Homo sapiens: one gene and its partner. The protein of the gene in region 1 purifies or fractionates together with the protein of each later gene. This does not show direct contact. Each region holds a gene or a part of one and is shown on either strand. Other genes may lie near its edges. The genes, in order: SEMA4A and CNTNAP1.

Region 1 (4,201 bases):
GGGAGGGCTAAAGCCTGATAGTGTGAACTATTCATATTGGCTAGAGGGGCTGGGGAAGAGGACGTCCGGAGTTGGGAGAATTCTGGATGTCTGGAGGAAGAACTGGGGGCAGGGCATGGAGTCTATGACTTCCAGAAAGGTGGGAATAGGACATCAGGCTGGGAGTGTAGGGCTGGAACTCCCCCAGCCTCCCCGTATCAGAACTCTTCCCAGTGACCCAAATGAGCCAATCTGTTTAAGCAGAGAGGCCCAGGGGCAGACTGGCTTCCCAAATCTGAGCTGGGGGTTGGGGAGACACAGAAGGTAGGGTCTGGATAAATGGGAGTTTCTCTTGATTCTAAGAAACTGGAAGGGACCTGGCAACCAGCCTCTGGGAGAGTCTGGGGGAGTCCTAGGCAAGTCTTGACAGAAACGATTGTCAGGCAGGATATGTCTGAGACCAACCCCCGGGGAAACTGAGAGAGATGAAAGAAGGCTGAGTACCTCAGATGAGGAATTATAAGGAGTAGCCTGAGCTGTAACATCCCCCATGTTGGCTGGTGCTGTAGCAGGAGGGATGGAAGTTACACTACAGGAAGGACTTCCTGCCAGGGAGGAATGTGCATGTCAGATGGAAGTGGATTATTTATTAGAGTTGGATTAGCCCTGGGATGTCTGTGCTCTTTAACCTGCAGTCAGCTGACCATGTCGAGTGGGCAGGAACCTACCCACTTTGTAGGCCACAGAGTTCTTGGCGCTGGATGCCTCATTAACCCCGCGTTATGAGGCTCCCCCTGGAGCCTTTAGGGAGGGGTGAGCAGCCACCTTTGGGGGTTGGGTGCCTCCAAAGTGTGGTCCAGTGAGCACGAGTTCAGATGGGAAATGTTCTGGGCTTTCTACTGGCCTGATTTCTGGGCTTCCTATTGGCCTGATGTCAAAGAGTGATGGAGATTAGACTGCAAGGGGGACTTCCTCAGCAAAATCATGGATAAGAGCCTAATACAATTATTTTATTTTATTTTTTTAAAGACTGTGGCCCAGCTGAGAGTGGGAGGTTTAAAGGTTAGACCACTGCAGGGACTTCCCAGTAGGTAGGAGTAGAGAGACCCCACCTTGTGGGTAAGTGAAAAGAAGAATATGTCATGTCCCCTATCTGGGAAATCTTAAGCAAGAGAAGAAACCACTGCTAGGCTGGTTATACTGGCTGTGACATGATGGAGAGGCAGGGGAATCGCTGAAATGACCTAGAAGGGCCTCTTAAACTTTCTGGTTGGACCGAGCAGAGGAGGGAGAGAGAGGTGTGTCTCTTGTGAGGTGGGTGAACGTCTTTTTATTCCCTCCCAATCCACCAACTTCCGCCCAAGCCAGGATCTGTCACAACTCGAGAGGTGGAAATTCCGGTTTCCCTGGCCTAGAGCTCCCAGTGCTGGCTTTGGCATGATGGGCACCTGGAGGGCCGCACTCCCGTTCCAGCCAGGCTGAGCCTTCTGTCCCCTGCCTCTGGGGCCTGGGAACCCCCCTTCTTCTTTCTCCTGAATGGCACCCCCGCCCTAGAATCCAGACACCGAGTTTCCCACTGTGGCTGGTTCAAGGGTATGTGAGGTGAGATGGGTGGCTTGGGGTGGGTGGTCTTGGGGAAGATTATGTAGAGGCCCAGGGAGGCAGACACAGGAGCAAGAGACAAGGGGGCCGGGGAGCTGCAGAGGCTGGGAGCCGGCCAGCCACCCCTGCCCAGGCAGCTCCCCGGGAAATGCTGATAACCAACCTGGTGGGATGGACCCTCATTGCCTCCCTGGAAGTATCAGGCCAGGCAGGCCTGAGCCTCAAAGACCCTGAACCCAGCTGGGGCTGGGGGAGAGGTTAGAGCAGGCAGACTCAAACCCAGTCTGCCTACCTGGGTCAGAGCTGAGTATGAGGCACAGGTGTCAACAGATCTGAAAGTGACAGGAGAGTAAGGTCTGAGGAATTTATATTTTGGGTACAGGAACCTGCTCCCCAAAATGTTCCCTGCCCAGAGCCAGGCAACGGTTTGGGCTTGGGCTATGAGAAGAGGGAAGGCAAAGGAGGAAAGACAGGAAAGACTTCCTGAGAGTAAGGCAAAAAAAGGCAAACCAGAGCTGTTGGTGAGAAGACAACAGAAGAAGCAGGATAGGGGAGACCTGGGCTCCTACCCATAGGGGACAGTGAGGTGACAGGCTGAGGCCTGGAAGGATGATGAAAGTGAGACCGTCTTAGGGCCCTTCCAGATAGGGAACCTTCTCTGCCCCAATGCCCCACCCCTGCCACCAATACACACGCTTCTGCTGCCTGGGGCTCTCCTATTGGTCCTCGGGGGGATGTGGTAAGAACTGCTCACCCAGAAAGTGCCCGGGTGCCTGTTTCCCCAGAGCTCCCTGGTGACAGTCTGTGGCTGAGCATGGCCCTCCCAGCCCTGGGCCTGGACCCCTGGAGCCTCCTGGGCCTTTTCCTCTTCCAACTGCTTCAGCTGCTGCTGCCGACGACGACCGCGGGGGGAGGCGGGCAGGGGCCCATGCCCAGGGTCAGATACTATGCAGGTAAGTGTCCGACAGCAGGAAGTGTGGGGATAGCAATAGAGAGCTGGAGGTGGGTGGAGGAAGGAGAGAGGAACAGAGGAGGGGAGGAAATGGATATGGAGAAACAGGGACACAGAGAGAGATGCCAGGGAGAAACAGAGGATCTCGGAGAAAGAGAGACACAGCCAGAAACAGAAGTCCAAAAGGAAAGAAAAGCCACTGGAGAGCAGATTGAGGAAAACAGGTGGCCACGGGGCCAGGGGCACGCTTCTTCCAGTTCTCCATGTTGGTAATTTTTCTTTCCTTCCTTAAATATCACTGTCACCAAGCTGGGCACCTCAAACTCCTAACTGCTTCACACTCCCAGGTACCCCAAAGTCAAGGCCCATGCTAGAAGACCATATGTGGACCCGGTGACCCGGAGCTCGCCAGGCCCATGCCAACCACATAGATCATGCTGGACCATACCATGTCCAGGACCATGGGATGGCTGGTTGGAGAATGGGCCCTGGAACCCACACACAAGCACAGCTTGGCTGGTTTCTTACTGAGACTGTGGAGGCTGCTGGCCCCCTCACCTCCAGGGAGAAGACTCAGGAAAGGATGTAGACACTGTAGGAGTTGTAGGTGACTGGGCATGGCTGTGTCTTTAGCATCTTTCTGGGGCAATTGGTAAAAGAAATGTATATTGCTCATTGATGCAGAGACCTCCTCTGTGTTGGATGCTGGGCGCACAAACACGGATAAGCCTCAGCCCCTGCCCTCAAGGTGTTCACAGTCACAAGGGGGAAGACATGAGCAATCAGACCATCAATACAGGGTGATCTGTTCAGCAACTGAGGGGTTTATGGCAGCTCTGGGGGAGGCCTGGCCTCCAGGAGATGCTCCTCCCTGAGGCTGGCCCTTCCATCCCGCAGCCACACCAGATTCCCCAACTTCTCCCCTCTGTACTGTGTAAGATTCCCTGAGCCTGCAAAGGTATCAATTAGCTAGTCAGCTTTCTAACTAATGCAACAGTGCAAGTGCTAATGAGAGAGGATCTGAGGAGCTCCTTCCTCCTTGCCGATGTGCCAGTGGGACAGGAAAATACACCCCCACCCACCCCACCATGCCAAGGTCATGGAGAGGACCTAGGTGAGCCTCCCACACCTGGCTCACCATCCCTGCCCAGGGGACATCCAGCCATGCCCACATGGATCTTTGAAGAAAAATGCTTCCTCTCTGTTCGTGGTGACTCTACTGGTGGGAATTTCCTTTAACAGAAGAGGAAGAAAGCAGGGGTGGTTGGGGGGATGGCGAGAGGGACTCTGACATACGCCCTCCTGTCTGCATATAGCTTTGCTGCTTGTGGCTGCCAACACTTTCCTGTTTGTCTGTCTGCCTGCTGCTCCTCATCCTAGTGAGGACCAAGGCGTCCTCCCCGACGGTAGCCCTCCCTGTCCCAGGCCTGGAAGAGCATCCACTGTGCCTCACTTTATTTCCCGTCCCCATTACCCTGCCTCTGGCTGCCTCTCCTCTCTACTGCGGGCTCAGCACACAACGCTCTTGTGTTGGGGTGGGGTGAAGGGAAGAACTGCTGGTGGAGGAGAGTGCATCTAGCTGCCAAGGCCTGGGGAGCACACTCAGGCAACCCTTCCCCTTCCCCCACTTTTATCTCAGGAGTCAGCTGCCTGCCCACCAAGTCCTCA
Region 2 (4,015 bases), on another chromosome or scaffold:
AAAAAAAAAAAATGCCTATTGTCCCCTTGGAGCTATTGTGAGGGTTACATGAGGTGACACACGTGAAAATCCTCTATACATTCAAATGTGATCTACAAATATTAAGTATTTGATGTTTTCCTGGATGCCACAACGGAGACCATGAGGTTATGATCTGAACTGGCTCACCTCCCTCTATGCATACCTGGATGAAGAGGTTCCGGTAAACACGGGTGATATTGATGCTATGGGGCTGGCCATCGGTCACTGGTCGAGTGGTTAGCTGGTACACGTAGGGACTGGTGCCCAGCTGATATCGCAGCTGAAGGGTCCCTGTGGGGTGGGGAGAAGAAATTTGGGGTCTCAGGCCCCATGACTCCTATCTTCTAACAGCACGTGGGTCCTTGTATTTGTGAATCAATAGGAGAATTAGGGGCACCGGGGTGAAGCTGGAGTGGGGTGAGAGAGCCCGGGAGAGCTTACCATCATCCTTGATGAGCACAGCCATGTAGTCACGAACAAAGGAACTGACGTAGAGCAGGACAGCAGGGGCGGAGCTGGTGCTGAAGCTGAAGGAGACCTCCTCTCCCGTAACGTTGTAGACAGGCCCACGGTAACCGGGCACAGGCCGACCAGGCCGGGGGTAGTCGGGCAGGCGGTACCCGGGGCCATGGTAGCCAGGCACATAGCCCGGAGTATCATAGCCCGGGATGTAGCCAGGCTCATAGCCTGGCACTGGCCGGCTCAGCATGTGGGAGAACTCCCTGGCTGCAGAGCGCAGCGCTGACTGTAGGTTATAGCGCATCCAGGTGCCCGGCTCAAAGAAACCACCAATATCTGCAGGTAGAAGCAGGGAGGTTAGGGCCCCCACACTGCTCACTCCCCAATTCAGAGGTTTTATGTCATCCATACACACATCCTGAGACTTACTTCAGTTTCTGCCACCCTCACAACCCTCCATTTACTTTTAGGTCCCCTTGAGCCCCTCTGTCACAGAACAGAATCTTACAGCCATGGGAAACTGGAGATCATCTGATCCAACCCCTGCATTTTACAAATGGGGAAACAGGCTCAGAGATGAGTAGTGACTTGCTTAAAGACACGCAGTAAGGCCAGGCACAGTGGCTCACACCTGTAATCCCAGCACTTTGGGAGGCCAAGGCAGGCAGATCATCTTGAGGTCAGGAGTTCGAGAACAGCCTGGCCAACATGGCAAAACCCCATCTCTACTAAAAATACAAAACTTAGCTAGGTGTGGTAGTGCATGCCTGTAATCCCAGCTACTATAGGAAAGCCAAGGCAGGAGAATTGCTTGAGCCCAGGGGGCAGAGGTTGCAGTGAGCCAAGATCATGCCACTGCACTCCAGCCTGGGTGATGGGGATATCCTGACCCCATGTAGTATATGTGCCACTACTCACACTTCCAAACCACCACCAGAAATCTGTTGGTCCCTAAGTCTTGTATCTCCCTAGTCCCCCACACTCCTCCCACCAGTAACCCACCTGCTCATATATCCTCCCTATAGGCCAGCCTTAGGGAGGATGCAGTCTTGGCATGTGTGTAGGATCTTGCTATGGGGAATGTCAAGGCTCACCTTAACCAAGAACTGGGTCATTGACATGTTTTAGGAATGCAGCAATCATCAAATACATTGACAAGGGAGTTCGCCTGTGTTACCATGGTGATGGTGGGAAGATGGAGAAGCGATTTGCTTTTTTTTTTTTTGTAGACACAGTCCTTGCTGTGCCCCCCAGGCTGGAGTGCAGTGGCACGATCATAGCTCACTGCAGCCTTGACCTCCTAGGTGCAAGTGATCCTCCCACCTCAGCCTCCCGAGTAGCTAGGCCTAAGTGTGCACCACCATGCCCAGCTAATTAAAAAATTTTGCCAGGCGCTGTGGCTCACGTCTGTAATCCCAGCACTTTGGGAGGCCAAGGTGGGTGGATCACCTGCGGTCAGAAGTTCGTGACCAGCCTGGCAAGCGTGGTGAAACCCCATCTCTACTAAAAATACAAAAATTAGCCGGGTGTGGTGGCACACACTTGTAATCCCAGCTACTTGGAAGGCTGAGGCAGGAGAATCGCTTCAGCCCGGGAGGTGGAGGTTGCAGTGAGCCGAGATCGAGTCATTACACTCCAGCCTGGGCAACAAGAGTGAAACTCAGTCTCAAAAAAAAAAAAGAAAAAAGAAATTATTTTGGCCAGACGCGGTGGCTCACGCCTGTAATCCCAGCACTTTGGGAGTCTGAGGCAGGCAGATCACAAGGTCAAGAGTTCGAGACCAGCCTGGCCAATGTGGTGAAACCCCATCTCCACTAAAAATACAAAAATTAGCCAGGCATGGTGGTGCACATCTGTAGTCCTAGCTACTCGGGAGGCTGAGGCAAAAGAATCGCTTGAACCAGGCGGAGGTTGCAGTGAGCCGAGATCGTGCCACTGTACTCTAGCCTGGGTGACAGAGCGAGATTCCATCTCATAAAAAAAAAAAGAATTTTTTTTGTAGAGACAGGGTCTTGCCATGTTGCCCAGGCTGGTCTCGAACTCCTAGCCTCAAGCAATCCTCCCACCTTGGGCTCCCAAAGCATACTTGGTGATTTTGAGATATTTTTGCACCAGCTATCTGTACCATCCCTTCCTTGTCCATGCCTTTGGAGTCACCCATGATCTTCAACTGCCTAACTCCCCAAACTCAGAGCTCAGGAATCCAGGGACAACTCTAATTTTCCATGATATGGGCTTTACATGCTATTTCCTTCCCTGCCCTCCCTACATCCCATTACACCCTATGGCTCCCTGTTGCCCCATAACCAGCAGCACTTACCGTGGTTGCAGTATGGCCCATCAAAAGCCGTGAGGTCACAGTCACACGTGTAGTAGCTATAGCGCTCCACGCAGCGGCCTCCATGGAAACAGGGGAGCCGAGGGTGGGCACAGTGGCCTGTGCAGTTGGGTGAGGTACCCTCAGAGGCATTGGCACGGCCCTCCAGGTTCAGAGTCACTCCGTTCAGACGCATGGCCCTCAAGCAACCCACAAAGGGGCGTCTCTTAAGCTCTGCAGATCCTGGGAAGGGTAGGCAACAGGTCAAGAAATGGAGGCAGGGCCAGGCGCGGTGGCTCACGCCTGTAATCCCAGCACTTTGGGAGGCCGAGGCGGGCGAATCACGAGCTCAGGAGATCGAGACCATCCTGGCTAACATGATGAAACCCCGTCTCTACTAAAAAATACAAAAAAAATTAGCTGGGCACGGTGGCGGGCGCCTGTAGTCCCAGCTACTCGGGAGGCTGAGGCAGGAGAACTGCTTGAACCCAGGAGGCGGAGCTTGCAGTGGGCCGAGATCGTGCCACTGCACTCCAGCCTGGGTGACAGAGCGAGACTCCGTCTCAAAAAAAAAAAAAAAAGAAAAGAAATGGAGGCAGAGCCAGAGACAGGATGAAGTATTGTAGTTGGAAAGGGAGCCAAGAGGGCTGGAAGAATAGAATAGGATACAAAGGCCTGGAGGGACAAGTGAGACACTGGCTTGCTCTGAAGCAGAGGGGACTGGCACCTAAGACAGGAGGCTCCTGGAAACAAGGCGAGTGGCCTTGGAGGATGGGGAGGTAAAGGAGGCTTCAGACTTGCCTCTGGGTTGCTGCTTACCCACATAGAGGGGCTGGTCATACTCCATCCAGATGTAGGTCTGCAGTGGCATAGGCCGCAGAACCCAGGGCCGGTGATCCACTCGGAGCCGGGCCTGCTTCACGTTGATTTCAGCCCGGACCAGGTGCCACTCGTCATCATTGAACTCAAAGTCGTCTGAGTGTACTGTGAGGTTCTCATCCCCATTCCCCACATCAAAGGCGAAGACCACATCCCGGGATGCTGGACAGTGTGATGCAGGGTAGGGGAGAAAAGGACTCAGACCTACAAGACCCTTCATAGATCCTTGCCCAATATAACCTCTTTCCCTCACCTCTTTGGAGCTTCTTGAATATCCCTCCAATTTGTCTGTAGCTTGCATTGAAACTTACCAGCTGCTTAAAAACCTCATACCCTTTG

The links.
Region 2: the proteins of SEMA4A (region 1) and CNTNAP1 purify together in Homo sapiens (affinity purification with mass spectrometry; one large-scale study listed by BioGRID and IntAct). This does not show direct contact.

The regions. Positions count from the first base shown.
Region 1 is NC_000001.11:156,152,184-156,156,384, forward strand, and holds the start of SEMA4A (semaphorin-4A isoform 1 precursor), read left to right. Parts: upstream 1-1,401; 5' UTR 1,402-1,581; intron 1,582-2,364; exon of another isoform or gene 2,365-2,366; 5' UTR 2,367-2,395; coding exon 2,396-2,534; intron 2,535-4,201. UniProt on the Homo sapiens protein: Cell surface receptor for PLXNB1, PLXNB2, PLXNB3 and PLXND1 that plays an important role in cell-cell signaling. Regulates glutamatergic and GABAergic synapse development.
Region 2 is NC_000017.11:42,692,322-42,696,336, reverse strand, and holds part of CNTNAP1 (contactin-associated protein 1 precursor), read right to left. Parts: intron 3,839-4,015; coding exon 3,617-3,838; intron 3,041-3,616; coding exon 2,801-3,040; intron 817-2,800; coding exon 463-816; intron 313-462; coding exon 185-312; intron 1-184. UniProt on the Homo sapiens protein: Required, with CNTNAP2, for radial and longitudinal organization of myelinated axons. Plays a role in the formation of functional distinct domains critical for saltatory conduction of nerve impulses in myelinated nerve fibers.